Regions from separate parts of the Homo sapiens genome. Here regions 2 and 3 are each linked to region 1. Evidence: fine-mapped expression QTL. A gene starts in region 1. Each other region holds a variant in brackets. All regions are shown on one strand. Distances are between the middles of the regions. Region 1 holds the start of STAG2-AS1 (STAG2 antisense RNA 1). Region 2 overlaps STAG2 (STAG2 cohesin complex component). Region 3 has its middle 38 kb from the start of STAG2-AS1.

Evidence for each region. PIP is the estimated chance that this variant, and not a neighbour inherited with it, causes the effect. A credible set is the group of variants that fine-mapping cannot tell apart.
Region 2: its variant is the best candidate, but not a certain one, in a credible set for the expression of STAG2-AS1 in subcutaneous fat (FUSION, PIP 0.78).
Region 3: its variant is the best candidate, but not a certain one, in a credible set for the expression of STAG2-AS1 in gastroesophageal junction (GTEx, PIP 0.69).

What each region holds. Positions count from the first base shown.
Region 1 is chrX:123,958,284-123,964,541 of GRCh38, forward strand. It overlaps STAG2-AS1 (STAG2 antisense RNA 1), which reads right to left and starts at 3,058. Exons shown (of 2, transcript NR_130770.1): 1 at 2,906-3,058; 2 at 950-1,122. It overlaps STAG2 (STAG2 cohesin complex component), which reads left to right and starts at 3,423. Exons shown (of 35, transcript NM_001042750.2): 1 at 3,423-3,573. RefSeq lists enhancers at 1,389-2,304, 1,833-2,022, 3,003-3,052, 4,481-4,580, 4,671-4,930 and a silencer at 3,373-3,512.
Region 2 is chrX:124,006,479-124,012,736 of GRCh38, forward strand. The region is part of intron 1 of STAG2 (STAG2 cohesin complex component); the gene reads left to right. Among named protein-coding and RNA genes, the nearest start is that of STAG2, 48 kb to the left of the region's middle. The variant GTAGGTAGGTAGA/G (reference allele first, on the strand shown) is at 2,957.
Region 3 is chrX:123,919,995-123,926,252 of GRCh38, forward strand. No RefSeq gene overlaps it. Among named protein-coding and RNA genes, the nearest start is that of STAG2-AS1, 38 kb to the right of the region's middle. RefSeq lists an enhancer at 4,075-4,576. The variant A/C (reference allele first, on the strand shown) is at 2,556.

The sequences.
Region 1 (6,258 bases):
TAAATATTAGTAAAAATTTGCTACAACATTTATTTCTGATGTTATACCAGTTTGTTATTAATCTTCAGTGGTATTTTTCACAAAATCAGAGCTAATTTGCTAAACAGAAGAACTTTTCAGTTTTGTTCTAAGCATAAAATTGTTTAAAATCTCAGTTGCTACATAGATAATTAACTGAGAATACAAATTTATAAAATAGATAAAAAACTATTTGTACCATGTACCATAAATGTGATGTTTGGAGCAGAAAATCAGTAGTTTTCAGCTAATACTAAGACAGGAAATCATTTAATATCAATTGAGATTAAATTGGCACAATTGAACTAAATTAATGTAAAAATGACTTGGTACACGGCCCAATTTTTCTATTACTTCAAGTGGAATTTTGCATTAACTTATATAACTCTGTAAATTTTCCACTACTCTCTATTTAATGTTCTAGCTGCATCATTCTGTAACTTGAATCTATTAAAAACTGTATAGCATTCTACCAAAGATGGTCTATAAAAGAAATGGAAATTTATTTTGAATAGTATTCCACTCTCCAGAGCTTTAGAGGTAAGTAAAAATGTCTCAGATTTTACTTCTTGTTATTGATATTCAGATGTTTCTGTTTAACTTTTATTGTCCAGTTGATTAAATATACTATAACTCTTTTTGTAAAGTTGCAGAAAAAACAATAAGCACAGAGGATGGGAGAGAAACTAACAAGAGATATGGAAGGAATATAATTTAAGGACTGAAAATAATCGTTATATTACATTAGGAATGTTTCAGAAGTGATATCGGGGTGAAAGCTTCATGATTTACACGGGGCTCACCCTATTTCTCAGTTGGAAAATTTGTTTTGTTATTAATACGTTTTATTTCTTTTCTTCTAATTGAAATGTAATTTAATATTTAAGAAATATTTTAACCAAAATTTCAAAAATGGAACAGAAACGAAGACTTCTTAAGCAAACACTATTTTATGAATCTACGAACTTCTATAACAGCAATGGAGACACTGCAATAGGTCACTTCTTCCTGTCCAAGGAAAAAGCGGCGCTTTGGAGGGGATAGGCCCTCCTCGAGTTTTTCTCCCCCGAGTAAAGAGCTCTTGGCGGTCAAAGGTCCAATACACTGGATTCGAAACAAACAAAAAAAAAGGGTGACAAAGATTTTAGTTAACAGGGGTCGGAGGAGCAGAAAGGGTCTTTTCGCACTTCAAACATCTTGGGGGAGGGATGGGAAGGCAGGATGCGAAGTAACCTAAATTCCCAACCATTTCGCGTGGTTGCACCCGCCCAGGAAGGCAGTGGATGCGCGGGGGAGGCGGGGTAGGTCCCCCTCCACTCCTTTTGCCCAAATTTCGATTTCCCTCCACTTCGCTCGGTCCTATCTCTTCCCCCGCCCCGAGAGTGGCGAACAAATTGGTCGAGCGCCCGGCCTAGCCTAGTAGTCCAGTTCTTTAGGACTCCTAGAACCTGGAGATACAGACCACGTTTTCTCGGAGACGGGACCAGTGGGCTGTAAAGCAAAACAATTTTTCTTTCTTTTCCAGGGCTAGGTCTTACTGGTAGAGAATCAGCTCGCTCTCTCTCCACACCCGAAGCAAAAAGCAAAACAAAACCAACCCGTATTCCGCCCCCGATCTAGCCCAAGTAGCTCCATTAAACCATTTAGGATCAGGTGCCAGAGTTAAGCGACTTGGGTTCTTTTGGTGGGAAGGGGTAGGGACAAGGGGGCATCGAAGGTACGGGAACTAGGGCCACAGGCCCCTCACAGGGGTGTGTCAGAAGAGGGGACTTCGAAGGGTGATGCCCGACTGGGCTGCCACCTTAGCGCCTCGCGAGGGGCGGAGGGGCCCGGGGAACGAGTCCCGGAGCGAACCCAGCCAGCCTCTGGATTCCCACGGCCCAGGGCTCCGCCGGACATTCCTACCGCCCTCCCCTCGACACCCCACTAAAGACAGAAGAACCGCGGCTCGATCGGGTCCGCGGCGGAAGCGCGGCCAAACGAATGAGTAAGTCAGGCGCGGGCACGGCACCTTGTTTACCCCACTCGGCGGCGCGCCCCTGCGGGCGCCTGGTTTGCGGGCGGCGTCGGAGACGCTGAACCCGGGAGTCAGTCGGCCACGATTGGTCGGTGACTGGGAGGAGGACGCTGGGTGGGAGGGCTGGGAGCCAGGCGTTGCAGTGGCAACTCTCTGCCGCTAGATGCCGCTCCCTCCCAACGGGAGCCGGGCGCGGGTTCGTGGCCGACAGATGGCGCCTGCGCGTTCCATTCGCCTCCAAGTCGCCGAAGAGCGAACACCCCAAACAATCCCGAAGCGCCACCAAAAAAAAAAAAAAAAAAAAAAAAAAAAAAAAAAAAAAAAAGAAAAAAAACCCCGCCGGATCCGACCGCCACTTTCAAAACCCCCCACCGCTCTAGAACCGCGGGAGCTTCCGTCCCTGAGTAGAATTCGAGGGTGTAAAGAAGAGGAAGGGGAAAAATATCTTGTACCAGCCCAGGGGTGAAGAAGCCCCCGGCCTGAGAAAGAAGGAGGAGTGGGGGAGGCGAACAGTCTCGTTGCTGCCTCTGTGTACGCTGAGGGGGGAGGTAAGTTATAAAATGGCGGAGGCGAAGCTTCTAGAAGTTTGGAGGGGCACCCGGAGGGCGCTTGGCCCACCGTGAGGTGTGTATGATTGAAACAGGGCGAGAGAGAGGAGTTGGGAGGGAAAGAGGTTGGGCACTCTGTTGCCATTGAATTTCCCCTCTGCTTTCTTCGCCCCCATGGGGGGCAGCCATGGAACGGGGGGCAGAGTCCAGGCGGGAGGATCTTTCTCGCCCCCGCGGCGCCCCCCGCCCTCCTTTCTCCCTTCTCCCCCCAAGTCGCTACCCCAACACTTCCAAGGAACTTCCAGCCCCCCTTCCTCCCTACCTCCTACTCCTAGAGTGGCTTTCTACCGCAGGGCTCTTCTTTTCGACTACCCTCGCTGAAGATTTTCTCTTCCTTCCCTCGCCCAACTCTCCCTCGGGGCCTCTACGGAGACCCCCCCCCCCCATGGGTGGCCCAAAATGGAGAACGCGGAGCAGCGCAAGATGGAGGCTCCGCTTCTCTGTGTAGCAGTAGATTTAGGTTCCTTTTCTCCGGCAGGCTCCTAAGCCTAGGAGAGCCCGAACTGGAGGTGGGGTGGGGTGCGAGCCGTAGTCGGGGGAGGAAAGCCGGGAGGCTGTGGTTGGGGTGGGGGAGAGCGCGGTGTCGCGGTGAGGGGAAGGCAGAGAGCAAAATGGTGGTGCTGGGAACCTAGGGGGGAGGGGAGAAAGGAGGCTCAGTTGTGTATATTTGGGCCTCGGACCGAGGGAGGCGAGGGAAAATCTACTCTGATCACACCCCTCCCTCGTGCCCCCTCCCTTCTCCCTTCCCCTCCTCCCTTCCCTCCCTCCCCCCTCCCTCCCTCTCTTCCTCCCTTCCTAGAGAGGGAACAACATTCATGTGACGGGCCCCTCTGCTTCTCCCCCGCCCCATCATCTCCAGCGCGTGGTGGGGGAACTGCTGGGGAAGGCGATTGGCATCGATCTCTCCATCCCTTCCGAGGCCCGACTTCGGTCAGTTTTCTTCGGGCAACAATTTTCTAAATTGGCTGGGGTCTGGCGGTGTTGGCCCCCGCGCGCAGACCTTGCCCCGAAGGGGGCCCTGCCTGCCTGGCATGGGCGGAGGGGGGAAGGGCGGGAGTGGAAGGCTGTTTGTTGGGGGGTTTTGGCGCCACTTTTGTTTTAGTTTTAGTGCTGCTTTTCATTCCCACCCCCACCCGCACTGTCTTTCTCAAGGCACGAACTGAGCTGATCCTTGCCCCAGGTAGGCAGCCTGTGCGTTTTCACTCCACACTTTTATTCTTGCTCGGGGTCGACTTTCTTTTTTCTTCTCCCCTGGATCCGGAGATCTGCGGACGGCGATTTTGGGACGAAAAGGGTCGGATGGGCCGTGGGAGAGAGAAGGTGTGGGAAACAGCATCAAGTAGTTCCGCAAAACTTTGAGCCCCGTTCCCATTTTCTTTTGGCCTAGAATTGTGAACGTATTGTTGATTTCGGCCTTTTTTTCCCCCCGTCGCGAGAATGTCTTGTTTTGCCTTTAGTTTTTTATAAACCGCTGTACTTTCGACATTTAGTTTCCGCTCCCCCTTGGTGCATATGTCATTTTATTTTTAATCCTTAACTGTAATGGGTTATCGTGTGATTTTCGTGCTTCAGTGCTCGGCTTTAATTTTTAATATTGTATTAGTAGTTTCATCCGGTTTGTGAGACTTTCTCTTCCGTGGCCTAGAATGTTTTTTATGTTGTTGCCTACCACCCCTCTTCCCTCTCCCTCCTTCTTTCTCTTGGATGTAGTTTTTAAATTGAGGGCCATGGTGTTGGATTAAATGGTAATTTACAGTTTACATGATATATCTATTGGAAACTTTTGATCTGTAAGGTTAGATTTAAAGTAAACGAGGCGCTTGTGTTGGTTTGCAATGGTTCCTTAAAATGCGCGGGCCACCCCCTTCTCCCACCATAAAGCCCCATCTTCCCTTCACACTGGAGTGTAAATTCCATACCCCTTTTCTCCCACGGACCGCCGTATTTCGCAGCAGCCACACCCTGTATTTGTCTCTGTGGATTGGACTCATTATCAGCTTAATTTAGTGACTCTTAAACCACCATGATGGGACTTGCTTAAGCACGAAGCTTCTTTTCCTGTTTAGTCCTAGTGGTTAGTGTCGAAAGAGGAATCATCGAGGTTTCTTGATGAAACCTAGTGCGGTCCAACCTCTGCCTTTTTTTCTGTTGTCTTTTTTCCTACTCCGGGCTGTTGGCGGTGTCAGCACCGCTGCTGGGGGCGGGGGTGGAGGGGAGAAAGAGTCGGGTTACCGAAGTGCGTCATTCCTGGCTCTAGCAGGGCCTGCTCGGGAGCTGCTGGTGTTTGTTACTGTCCTCGCAGCACTTTTCTGCCAACCTTCTCTCTCTGCGTATTGGTTAGGAGCAAAAGCAGGAGGCGGTCTCCTAATTCTGTCTGTAGCCTAGCGCGTTGCGTTTAAGGGTATATCTGAACTTATTTTGTTAAAAAAAAGGCTCTGGGAAGTGGATGCATTTGTTTAATGACATATAATTCAGGTAGTTTAGGCTTGCTCTCATATACTTTCCGATGAACAGTGGGGTTAATTTTCAACATTTTCAACCACTTAACGTTAAAATGCCTGGTTTTCTTTCTACATTGATATCAATCTATAATTAGGGATCAGAAGGACCAGTTTAAGGTATATAAGTGTTCAGCAGTTTTTCAAGTGGTTGAATTGCAGTTTTATGACACATTATGTTAAATAGTCGATTTTTTTTTTTCATTTTGAACTAAGGTGCCACGTTAAGTAAGTTAATTGCAGATGTTTAAGTTCGTTTTCATCACATTTCCCTATTTGTCTTTTTAGGTATAATTTTAAATATGCCCTTTGGGTTTATGGACTTCATTAAAATTCTTAAAGATGGTTATATCTTTGTGTTTAACTGAATTCTTAAATTTATCACCTACCAAAGAATTGTGTAAGGCGTAAGGCGGCTGTATAGTTACATTGTTGGATTTTGACTTAACATGCTAGTTTTTGATACTTTTGCTATCTTTGGGTAGAAGTGTACTTAGAGAACATAGTATCTTCCTCTTAATTCTTTTTGAAGATAATAATGAGAGGAGGGAGTGGGTAGGAGGTAGGTGTGAAGCAGAAGTGGCCTTGAGTTGATTATTGTAGCTGGATGAATACAGAAGCGCTCATTGTTACTATTATTCTCTCTACTTTTGTGCGTGCTGTTAAACATTTCCATAGTTTAAGATAAACTTTTTTTGCAGTAGAATTTCCAGATTGTCTTACAGTCTTGGGGGTAATGACTTAAGTTTATATTTACATGTCAAAATTACTTGCATAGGAAATTTAGCCTTGTGTAAGTGATTACACAATGCTTGGCAAAACTTTCAAAAAAAAAAAAACGTTTAAACGGGAACTAGTATAAAACAGGCAACATAAATACTTATAAATTGGTTGAACTTTAAATGTTTATAACTTAGCCTGAATGTGCTCTACTTTTAGTTTCCTTTTTAATTCTTTGAAAACAGGAAAATTCCATTTGCAATTTTTGTAAATTCTGCTTAGTGTCTATTTCATCAAGTTGGAGTTACAGTGAGTCAGTATGAAAGGGATTTACTATTAATAGGAGGGGCTTTGGCAGTTGCAGTAAGTGACAGTGGAAGGGATTGAGGTACCATAG
Region 2 (6,258 bases), 48 kb after region 1:
CCCAGGCTGGAGTGCAGTGGCACAATTTGAGCTCACTGCAAGCTCTGCCTCCCGGGTTCACACCATTCTCCTGCCTCAGCCTCCCGAGTAGCTGGGACTACAGGTGCCCACCACCACGCCCGGCTAATTTTTTTGTATTTTTAGTAGAGACGGGGTTTCACTGTGTTCATCAGGATGGTCTTGATCTCCTGACCTTGTGATCCGCCCACCTCGGCCTCCCAAAGTGTTGGGATTACAGGCGTGAGCCACCGTGCCCGGGCTGTCACTATTTTTTTATTTTGGCAATTCTTACAGATGTAGTGATATCATGTTGTGGTTTTAATTTGTGTTTTCTTCTATTCAGTTTAACATGTGTTTTAAAAGTTTGTTTGCTAATTATCTCTTTTATACTTAATATCTTGATTCTTAGGGTCATTAACAAGATTGCTTGCCTTCTCCTATAGTATAAAGAAAATAACTTCAGAAAAACAGAATTAGTGTAGCAGACAACAGAAGTATTGTATGAAGTTTAATTTTCTTTCCTTCTTTTTTTTAAAAATAGAGACATAGTCTTGCTCTGTCACCTAGGCTGCAGTGCAGTGACCTAATCACAGCTCACTGCAGCCTCGTACTCCTGGGCTCAAGCGATCTCTCTCTCTCTCTCTCTTTCTTCCCTCCCCCTCCACCCTTTCCCCCTCTCCCTTCCCCGCTTTCCTCCCTCTCCCTCCCTCTCCTTTTTTGTAGAGAACAGGTCTCGCTGTGTTGACCAGGCTGGTCTCAAACCCCTGGCCTCAAGCGATCCCCCCACCTTGGCCTCCCAAAGTGCTGGGATTACAAGTGTGAGCCATCCCATCCTGCTTTAAATTTTCTTCTTTTTGTCCTTAAAATTCTTCCCACTAAGGATAAGCAAAGTGTTGTGTTCTGACCTCACTTTATATGAATACTTTCTCTGTATGTCTGTGTTATTGATTTGATGTACATGATTAGGTTTTTTTTTCCAATTTGTCTTTAATTTCAGAAATTTCTGTTTCTATGACAGTGACATAACCTAACAAAATTCAGTTTCATTTGAATGAGTATGACATTTTCCTTATTCAAAAGTTAAAATTATATGCAAAGGTATATATAGAAGTCTTCCACAGATTCCTGTCTCGTATATTTCTTTTATCATCCCTTCCTCCTTACAACTTGGAAAAAGTGTTTCTTGTTAATCCTCTCAGTATTTTTTTGTGCAAACAAATACATCCATTCATATACATGTTCTTACTTTGTGAAAGGCATCACATTTTACATTATATTACATAATTTGATGTAAACTTAAATATTAAGTAGCAGACCTAACAGAAGACTTTCAGAGTTGTGTTAATGCTGTTTTTTATGTTGTGAGAGTTGAATCTGCTACACTGACTTCCACATTATTTTGTGATCTATGAGTTATGATCAACATGAGATAGTAGGTTCACTAGTAACTAAGTTCAAGTATGTAACACTGGAAAAACTGCTTGTTGCTTTATGACTTTGGGCAGAAAAACAGACAGGTGAAATGCAGTTGAATACTTTGTAAATTATGGTTAGCCAAAGTAGGTGACATAGGACTAACCTGTGAAAGGGGACATAATGAAGTAAAACATTCAAGTAAAATGACATGATAATGGCATATTTGGCAAACATCTTCAGAATAGATTATATGTAGAAGTTGGAGGAGAAAAGTTTTTCCCTTTCCTAGTTGCAATTTATTATTATTATTAATTTTCTTTCTTTTTTTTTTTTTTTGAGATGGAGTTTCACTCTTGTTGCCCAGGCTAGAGTGCAATGGTGCGATCTCGGCTCACTGCAACCTCCGCTTCCCAGGTTCAAGCGATTCTCCTGCCTCAGCCTCCTGAGTTGCTGGGATTACAGGCATGCGCCACCACGCCTGGCTAATTTTTGTATTTTAGTAGAGACAGGGTTTCACCATGTTGGTCAGGCTGGTCTCAAACTCCCGACCTCAGGTGATCCGCCTGCCTCAGCCTCCCAAAGTGCTGGGATTACAGGCGTGAGCCACCGTGCCCAGCCCTATTATTAATTTTTTAGAGACAGTCTCGCTGTGTTGCCCAGGCTAGTTTCAAACGCTTGGGCTCAAGTAATCCTCCTGCCTCAGTCTCCTAAAGTGCTGGATTAGGGGCATGAGCCACCATGCCCAGCTGCTAGTTGCAATTAATTTATTAATCAGGATAGCTAAGCACAGTCATTTATGGTGGGTGGAGGGAGACAGAGGGAGAGGGAGATTGTGTTTCATGATGAAAAGATCATTTTGAGTATTTTTGCCAAAATAATAATCATAGAATAAGATGGAGATCCTTGCATATGAATAATCTTCTCAATCATGTTGTTCTCAGTGTTGCTACGTTATTTGGCAGATAACTTTTTGCCAGGAGGATAATTATAACACATTTTTTTTTGAAAGAGTTTTCTAATTGAGAAGTTTCTTTCCTGACTAATGACTTAACAAATAAACCATTGTTACAACAAACTGTGTCATAACAGCAAAGTTGCAATAACTATGAATCTAAGATAGTTTCAAGTTCTCTGTAGTAGAGTGTACTTTCAAGTCTATCCAAAACAAAAACGTTAGCTCTAATATATATTTGTTTTTAATAATATATTGCTCTTAATATTAAATATATGTTGAGTCATTATTTCGCCTCCTTTCTTAGCATCTCGATAGTTCTTTTGGGGATATTGATTTTGCAGGATGCTTTAATGTATTTGTTGTTGTTTAGAAATAAGGCAGTCTTTTGGTCATAGTTCTAGGGAAGGTTTAAAAACTTCAGTCATCTTAGAGCTCAGATTGAGTTGGTCTGTTTGGATGGCATGCTAAAGTATATGAAATTTGCTTGGTTACAGGGCAAAATGTGAGAGTCCCCTAATGATATCTGGTACCAGTAATCTAACCAGGTAGGTAGGTAGGTAGGTAGGTAGGTAGGTAGGTAGGTAG[GTAGGTAGGTAGA/G]TAGATAGATAGATAGATAGATAGATAGATATCTCTTCTTACTGGATCTTTTTCATGCTGTATGCTTCCTCTCGAGTTTAATGGAATCAAGTGTTGCATTTTAGGGTAATTCCTAAATCTTAGTATCATCACATGAGGCCATTTAGTATGCTAACCGTTGGATGCAGTTAGTTTGCGTTGCTGCTGGAAGATTGTTGCTGCTTTTTACCCTGGCTTTAAGTTGTGTGCTCTTGTGGGTAACTATGGGACTTGACTTGTACTGTCATATTTTGAACAAGGGAAATAAATGTTTAACATTTGTTAAATAGGTTTCAATGACAGTTTTCATACTCTATGGTGAGCAACTTAAATGTAAGGTTAGCTCTGGTTGTTCAAGTGTTTCCATGTTTTTTTGGAAAAGTTAGATTATTTCTTTTGATATTTTGCTGTAAATTTAACATAAGCTTTGGTGCATTTTACCTTATTAAACGGGAGACAAAAAGTCTCAAAATATTCTGAGTGTAGATATCAATGATTAGTGTCTTAATTTACAAAATGACATCTCAATAGATCAGTAGTTATATGGTATGTGGTATGCTTGTTTAGTAGAAAGGTGTTCTTAAATGATCGATGATTTAAGTAAAATCCTGTGAGTTTATACCATATGAGAGAAGCTTGCTTGATAAAAGAGGTTTCAAATTTAATTTTTTATTGTGGTAAACAACAACATTTACCATTTAACCATTTTTTAAGTGTATAATTGAGTAACGTTAAATATATCCAACTGCTGTGAAACAGATCTACAGAAATTTTTCATCTTGAAAGCCAGAAACTCTATACCTATTAAACAACAACTCCCGTTTTTCTCTTCCCCTAGTCCCTGGTAACCATTCTACTTTCTGTTTCTATGAATTTGACTACTTCAGATACCTCATAAGTTGAATCATATGGTATTTGTCTTTTTTGTGACTAGCTTATTTCAGTTAGCATAATGCCCTTAGGGTCCATCCGTGTTGTAATGTAGTACAGATGTTCCTTCCTTTTAAAAGGTGTGTAACTCATTTTATGTATCTACTACATTTTGTTTATCCATATCTGTTCTATTCCACTGGTCTATTTGTCTTTATGCCAGTACCTCACAGTTTTGATTACTGTAGCTTTGTACAGTAAGTTCTCACTTAGTGCCGTTCTTAGGTTCTTGGAAACTTGGGCTTTAAGCAAAGCGGTGTACAGCAGATCTTTGAACAATATCAATTTGTTCAGTGTTGTTTTGTTATAATGTTGATGAGGAAAAAAATTGGTTTCATTCATTATACGTCATTTTGCTTAACATTGGAGTTTCCAAGAACCTGTTGGTGATATTGAGGACTTTCTCTAAAATGCTTTGAAATTAGGAAGTGTGAGTCCTCCAACTTTGTTCTTTTCTTCCTAAAATTGTTTGGGCTTTTTGGGGTCCCTTGAGATTCTATATGAATTTTCAGCTTAATTTTTTTCATTTTTGCAAAAAGTGCTATTGGAATTTTGATAGGGATTGTGTTGAATCTGTAGATTTCTTTGGGTAGTATGGACTTCATGATAATATTAAGTCTTCGAATTCATGAACACAGGATGCCTTTCTATTTGTGTCATCTTTCATTTCAGCAGTATTTTGTAGTTTTCAGTGTACAAGTCTTCTACGTGCTTGGTTAGGTTTAGTATTTTACAGTTTTTGATGCTGTTGTAAATGGAATTGTTTTCTTAATTTCCTTTTTGGATTGTTAGTATATACAAGAATTTTGTGTGTTGATTTAATATCCTGCGACTTTATTGAATTTGTGGTTATTAGTTCTAAGAGTTTTTATGTGTGTGTAAACTTTGGGATTTTCTACATATAAGATTGTGTCATCTGGGAACAGAGATAATTTTACTTCTTTCTTTCTTTCTAACTTGGATGCCTTTTATTTGTTACTTTTCCTGCCTAATTGCTTTGGCTAGGCCTTCCAATACTATGTTGAATAGACACGTAGTGGGAGTGGGCATCCTTGCCTTGTTCTGTATGTTAGAGTAAAAACTTTCAGTCTTTTACCCTTGAGTATAATATTAGCTATGAGTTTTTGACTTTTACTATGTAGAGATAGCGTCTTAGTCCATTTTCTGTTCCTTACAACAGAATATCTGAAATTAGGTACTTTATAAAGAAAAAGAATTTATTTCTTACAGTTAAGGAGGCTGAGAAGTCCAAGTTTTGAGGGTCCACATCTGATGAGAGTCTTCTTGCTAGTGGGAACTCTGCACAGTTCCTAGGTGTTGCAAGGCATCACATGGCAATGGGACTGAGGGTGCTTGCTCAGGTCTCTTTCTCTTCTAAAGCCACCTGTCCCACTCTCATAACTATTAAATCATTAATCCAGTAATCCATGAATGGATTAACCTATTCATGATGGCAGAGCCCTCCTTACCCAATCTCCTATTAAAGACCCCACTTCTCAGTACTGCCACATTGGGGATTAAATTTCCACGAGTTTTTGAGGGGACAAATATTCAAACCATAGCAGGTGATTTTTTTCTAGTTTTAACTTGAGTGTTTTTTATAGTGAAAGGGTGTTGAATCTTGTCAAATGCTTTTCCTGCATCAACTGAGATGATCATGTGGTTTTTGTCCTTCATTCTGTTGATGTCCTGTGTTACATTGATTGATTTTTGTATGTTGAAACAGTCTTGCATTTCAGCAATAAATCTCACTTGGTCATGGTGTATAATATTTTAAATGTTTTAAATGATGAATTCTGGTTTGCTAGTATTTTGTTAGGAATTTTCGCATCAATATTCATCAGGGATATTGGTCTGTAGTTTTCTTATAGTGTCTTTTTCTGGCTTGAATTTAATTTTTAAAATGTAATTTGCATGCCTTACTCTTTGTCTAGGAATGTTTAAGATTAGAGAGAATTAAAAGAATTTTAGAGTACCACATATGTGTCTCCTGTTGTTACCACTGTGTGGAATTACCAAGTGAAGAATCAAACTCTTAGATCTGAAATACGAATTGGGAAGTACTATAGTGTGTTGACAAACTGAATTATGAAAGCATATTTGATTTCTGAACTTGAATATGCATATAATTCAAGCCTATGAATTGTGTACTGTGGTTGTTAGCTAAAAGGTTAGTGGGTAATATCAAGTGGCTGGTAATGCTAAATATTTTAATAAGGTCAGCTAATCAGAAGTGAAAGGAACAAAAAAATTGGACATGTGACATATATGTGTTCTTATATAGTCATGCTAAAATGAAAAAAGAGGCATTACATATTAATAGTCACCACATTTTTAAATTT
Region 3 (6,258 bases), 38 kb before region 1:
CAAAGCACTTTACCTGCTTTGTTTTGTAACATCTCTCTAAAGTGAGCAGTTTATTATAATTCTGCAGTTAATGAAATGGCCACTGAAAGGTTAGGTGACTTGCCCAGGGTCATACAGATAGGTAGAAGCAAAGCCATAAAAATAACTCTGACTTCTGGTCTGGTACTCTTGCACTATGCCATTGTGTTTCTTATTCATTATATTCCTAGCATCTCTGTAATTTACAGCTGAGAAACCCCAGACATAGAGGTTATATGACTCACCTAAATCATATGGTGAATCACCAGTCAAGCTGTTCTTATAGGCAACAAAGCTGTTTCTAGCTAATTTTTGGCATCATTTAGCTAAATTGGCTGCCTCACTGTCTGATGTATATACGTCTAAATCTAAGCTCCTTTTTGGATGGCAAGACCTGGCTGGCCATATGATACCAAACCACAAAACCAAATCTATTCAACTTGAATTGAAAAATTAAAGTAATTCTTAAAAAAAAAATAGTTTAACTACATTTCTGATCTCAGGAATTTGGAAATGGGAAAGATAACTTTTCACTACACTGCCAAGGCAAACCTTGGAAGTCAGGAACCATGTCTCCCTAGTCCCTATGTTATCATGACTAGCACACTATCTAGTCCATTAGTAGGCACTGAGTTAATTTTTGCTCAGTACCTAAATATATGAGTGAAGGAATGAATGAACAAATGAATAAATAAATGGAGTGGGAAGACCTCCCCATCCAAAAACTGTGCATTGACAAGTACAATACAATTTGGATCAATACTGATGTTTTTACAAATTTTTCTTTTCTTTTCTTTTCTTTTTTCTTTGAGACAGAGTTTTGCTCTTGTTGCCCAGGCTGGAGTGCAATGGCGTGTTCTTGGCTCACCGCAACCTCTGTCTCCTGGGTTCAAGTGATACTCCTGCCTCAGCCTCGCCGGCTAATTTTTGTATTTTTAGTAGAAACGGGGTTTCTCCATGTTGGTCAGGCTGGTCTCGAACTCCTGACGTCAGGTTATCCACCCGCCTCAGCCTCCCAAAGTGCTAGGATTACAGGCGTGAGCCACTGCGTCCGGCCTCCTTTCTTTTTTTCTTTTTTTTTTTTGAGACAGAGTCTTGCTCTGTTGCCCAGGCTAGAGTGCAGTGGTACAATTCCAGCTCACTGCAACCTCTGTCTCCCAGGCTCAAGGGAAACTCCCACTTCAGCCTCCTGAGTAGCTGGGACTACAGGTGTGCCAGCATGCCTGCCTAATTTTTGTATTTCTTTTTCTTTTTTTTTGAGACAGAGTCTCACTCTGTCCCCAGGCTAGAGTGCAGTGGCTGATCTCTGCTCACTGCAACCTCTGCCGCCCGGGTTCAAGTGATTCTCCTGCCTCAGCCTCCCGAGTAGCTGGAACTACAGGCGAGCACCACCATGCCCAGCTAATTTTTGTATTTTTAGTAGAGACGGGGTTTCACCATGTTGGCCAGGATGGTCTCGATCTCTTGACCTCGTGATCCGCCCGCCTTGGTCTCCCAAAGTGCTGAGATTACAGGCGTAAGCCACCGCGCCTGGCCCTTTTTTTTATTTTTTGAGATGGAGTTTTACTCTGTCGCCCAGGCTGGAGTGCAGTGGGCGATCTCGGCTCGCTGCAACCTCCGCCTCCCGGATTCAAGCGATTCTCCTGCCTCAGCCTCTCCGGTAGCTGGGATTACAGGCGTGTGCTACCACGCCCAGCAAACTTTTGTATTTTTAGTAAAGACAGGGTTTCTCCATGTTGGTCAGGCCAGTCTCCAACTCCTGACCTTGTGATCCACCTGCCTTGGCCTCCCAAAGTGCTGGGATTACAGGCATGAGCCACCATGCCCGGCCTGAAATATATATTTATTTTATTTTATTTTATTTTATTTTATTTTATTTTATTTTATTTTATTTTACTTTTTTGAGATGGAGTCTCACTCTGTCGCCCAGGCTGGAGTGCAGTGGCATGATCTTGGGTCACTGCAAACTCTGCCTCCCGGGTTCAAGCCATTCTCCTGCCCCAGCCTCCCAAGTAGCCGGGACTACAGGCACCCGCCACCATGTTCGGCTGATTTTTTTTGTATTTTTAGTAGAGACGAGGTTTCACCGTGTTAGCCAGGATGGTCTTGTTCTCCTGACCTCGTGATCCGCCTGCCTCGGCCTCCCAAAGTGCTGGGATTACAGGCGTGAGCCACCGCGCCCGGCCACCTGAAATATATATTTAAATTCAGCCACCTTGATTAATGAGTTTAATAGAACCCATTTCACTTCACTGTTACCCTCACCACCGTCTCTCAATCCTATTAAATCAAACTAACACTGTGTGTTAAGTGTTTGATGTGTACCCAGAAATTCTGGGAAGAAGGATATAAGAAAACAAGACTCAAACTCAGCCCTCCTGGGGTTTATAGTCTCGTTGGCAGAAAGAGACTTACATACATCATTCACAAGCTATTCCCTGATTCCAAATACAATACAGGGGCATTGATAACTGTTGTGTTGTTTAACCCAAAAAAATCAAAAGAACAAAAGAGTATAAGTACAGTGTGATACAGCG[A/C]TAGATTGTGTGTAATAGACTATCATTACAACAGGAACACAGAAGGACAAATGAGGTGTGGCCCAATAATTGGAGTAGGTTTTCTGAAAGGAGTGTCACAAAAGCTAAAAGATCTGAGATTGACCAGGTGCAGTGGCTCACGTCTATAATCCCAGCACTTTGGGAGGCCGAGGTGGGTGGATCACCTGAGGTCTGGAGTTTAAGACCAGCCTGACCAGTATGGTGAAACCCCATCTCTACTAAAAATACAAAAATTAGCTGGGCATGGTGGTGCGCACCTGTGTTCCCAGCTACTAGGGAGGCTGAGACAGGAGAACTGCTTGAGCCCAGGAGGTGGAGGTTGCAGTGGGCAACCAGTGCACTCCAGCCTGGGTGACAGAGTGAGACTCTGTCTCACAAAAAAAAAAAAAAAAAAAAAAGATCTGAGGTTGTTCCAGATCCTAAAGCTGTATGATCGTATATGATACATTTGTCATTTTGTTTTGTTTTGTTTTCTGTGCAAGGTGAATGATGGAGGACAAAAGGACCCACTTGGTCTATTATGTTATAAACTTATATGTGTGTGCTGGCATATGTCTTGCATATTTTAATATGTTTCCATGTACATTTTATTGAATAGTAACTCTTCAAACAGATTACAGCTTAAAATGAATCTAGCGTCCCTTGCTTCCAAACAAACAAACAAAAATTAGAAGCCAAAATTTACTCAAAGCACTGCTCAAGCAGTCTGTCTTCATTTGGAAATGGTCAATTAACTCAAATGACAAATCAATCTGGAATAGGAGCAACTCCACAGATGATTCATGGTGACTGAAGGCGCCTGGTAACCTTTCTGTCTCCATTTCTTCATCTGTCTGTAGGGAATAATGGTCTTACAGAGGTGTTACAAAAAACAATTAAAGTTGGTAATGTGCTTTGAGAGCCATGGATGAACCAAGCTTTCAAAGTGCATAATTACATACTGCAGCGAGTCTCTCATACTTGCATCCTCTACTCAACTCTTTAATAGGTATTTGAAATGACACAACTCAGGTAGGTTTTCCATGTTCTCAAGTTACTACTACATTATTTATCCACTGATACCAGTTGTCTTTAAAATAGAATGCAACCCACAGTAGTAGTAAGGACCATTAATCCTTTGGACTTTAGGATACTTAAAGTCTTTCTTCTGTTTTTTTGTTTTTTTTTTTTTGAGACGGAGTCTAGCTCTGTCGCCCAGGCTGGAGTGCAGTGGCGCGATCTCGGCTCACTGCAAGCTCCGCCTCCCGGGTTCACACCATTCTCCTGCCTCAGCCTCCCGAGTAGCTGGGATTACAAGCGCCTGCCACCATGCCCAGCTAATTTTTGTATTTTTAGTAGAGACACGGTCTCGTCATGTTGGCCAGGCTGGTCTTGAACTCCTGACCTCGGGTGATCCACCCGCCTTGGCCTCCCAAAGTGCTGGGATTACAGGCGTCAGCCACCACACCCGGCCCAAGTCTTTCTTCTTGGGGAGTATAGTTTTCCAGATCATTTTCTACCTTCATTTTTCAATTTTTCCACTTCAGTTGGCTCACTCATCTCCTCTCTGACAACAGTCCGTGAAGATTGTAAAAGATCAGCTCAGTGGCTTCACTGAAACCTAATAGGAGGCCCCTCTTTGCTTTGCTGAATACTTGGTAATTTCTTGTTTGCTGTTCTTATTCCTCTTCTTTCCCTCCACCTGCTCCATATTTTAATTGGCCTGTTGGAAACACACAGCAGGTGAAATTCTTTAGATGTCTCCACAGCAGGAGAAGGAAAAAGATGTTGAAATCAGAATGTTGAATATTTAAGTCGGGAAGGAGAAGGGCTGGGATTGGCCAAGCAGAAAACAAGAGGGGAGAAACCAGCAAGATGTAGTGACAACATCCCAGTCACTCTGGGTAGTAAGGGGAAACCTAGAACAACAAAGCCAGTTGAGAACACATGAAAAAAGAACTACTGACCCATAACCTGGGCAACCTTCCCACACACTCCTTTTGCCATTCTGCCATATGAGAGAAGGAAAGGAGAGAGTGTAGTATCCCTCTCCATTACAGGAAAGCAGTGTCAAGCTTATATCTTCTAATGAACTTGGATAAACTTGGATCCTACTTAGTGGCAACTTTATGTTCAAAGGAAAGCACATTTTCTCTGATAGCCCCAAAGAATCTAAATATTTGGTTCCAAGATGGAATATGAAATGGAATATGAGACTATGAGTATAAATCAAATATTTTTCTTTTTATCTTTTTTTTTGGGGGGGGCAGGAGGGACAGGGTCTTCTTCTGTCACCCAGGCTGGAGTACAGTGGCACGATCATAGCTCACAGCAGCCTCAACCTCCTGGGCTCAAGTCATCCTCCCACCTCACCCTCCCGAGTAGCTAGGACCACAGGCTGTGCCACCACACTCAGCTAATTTTAAAAAATTTTTTTGTAGAGATGGGGTCTCCCTATGTTGTCCAGGCTGGTCTTGAACTCCTGGACTTAATTGGATCTTCCTGCCTCAGCCTCTCAAAGTACTGGGACTACAGGCATGAGCCACCACGCCCAGCCCCATTTTCGTATGTTAGGTTTGAATTCTGTCCTTTATCAATGTGTGATGATTTTGATACATGAATTTCAAGCAAAAACTTTTCTTTCCTCCAGCCCCAAAGTTCTGTCTGAACTATATAGGGTGTGGGGAGGCTGTTTTCCTTCATAGAAACTACTACTTGAAGCAGTGACCATTGCTAAGGGGATTCAGCTGCCATTACTAAAGTAGAAATTTACTAAAGTACCCAGAAAGTGAGTCAATTTTACTCTGCTGGAAGGAAATATTTTCCTTTAAATGGAGTAAGAAAACACAAGAGGGTTCCACCCTTCTTGAAATACTGTAGCACTGCATATGTTTCTCACTCTGAGTGCAGAAAACTTTTGAAAAGTGCCTATTTATATAGCATTTTTTGAAATAACAAAATTTAAGAAGTGGAGGGCCAGAGTAAGTGGTTGCCATGGATTGGGGAAGGGAGGGTGGCGGTAGATGGGTGTGGTTATAAAAGGGCAACAGGAAGAATCTGTGATGCTGTAATTGTTCCGTATCCTGACTGTGGTGGTGGGTACATGAATCTACACAGTTGATAAAATGGTATATAAGCTGGGTGGAGTGCTGCCCACCTGTAGTCCCAGCTACTTGGGAGGGTGAGGTGGGAGGATTGATTGAGTCAAGGAGTTCAAGGCTAATGAGCCAGAGGAAAGATTGGGTGGAAGGAAATGAAGAAAGTATTATTATTATTATTATTATTATTATTATTATTATTATTAGAGACAGAGTCTCACTCTGTCACCCAGGCTGGAGTGCAGTGGCATGATCTCAGCTCATTGCAACATCTACCTCCTGGGTTGAAGCAATTCTTATGCCTCAGTCTCCCAAGTAGTTAAGATTACAGGTGTGTGCCACCATACCCAGCTAATTTTTGTATTATTATTATTATTATTATTATGATTTTTGAGGCAGAGTTTCACTCTTGTTGCCCAGGTTGGAGTGCTATGGCGTGATCTTGGCTCACTGCAACCTCCGCCTCTTGAGTTCAAGCAATTCTCCTGCCTCAGCTTCTCAAGTAGCTGGGATTACAAGTGTGCGCCACCATGCCTGGCTAATTTTGTATTTTTAGTAGAGACAGGGTTTCACCATGTTAGTCAGGCTGGTCTTGAACTCCTGAC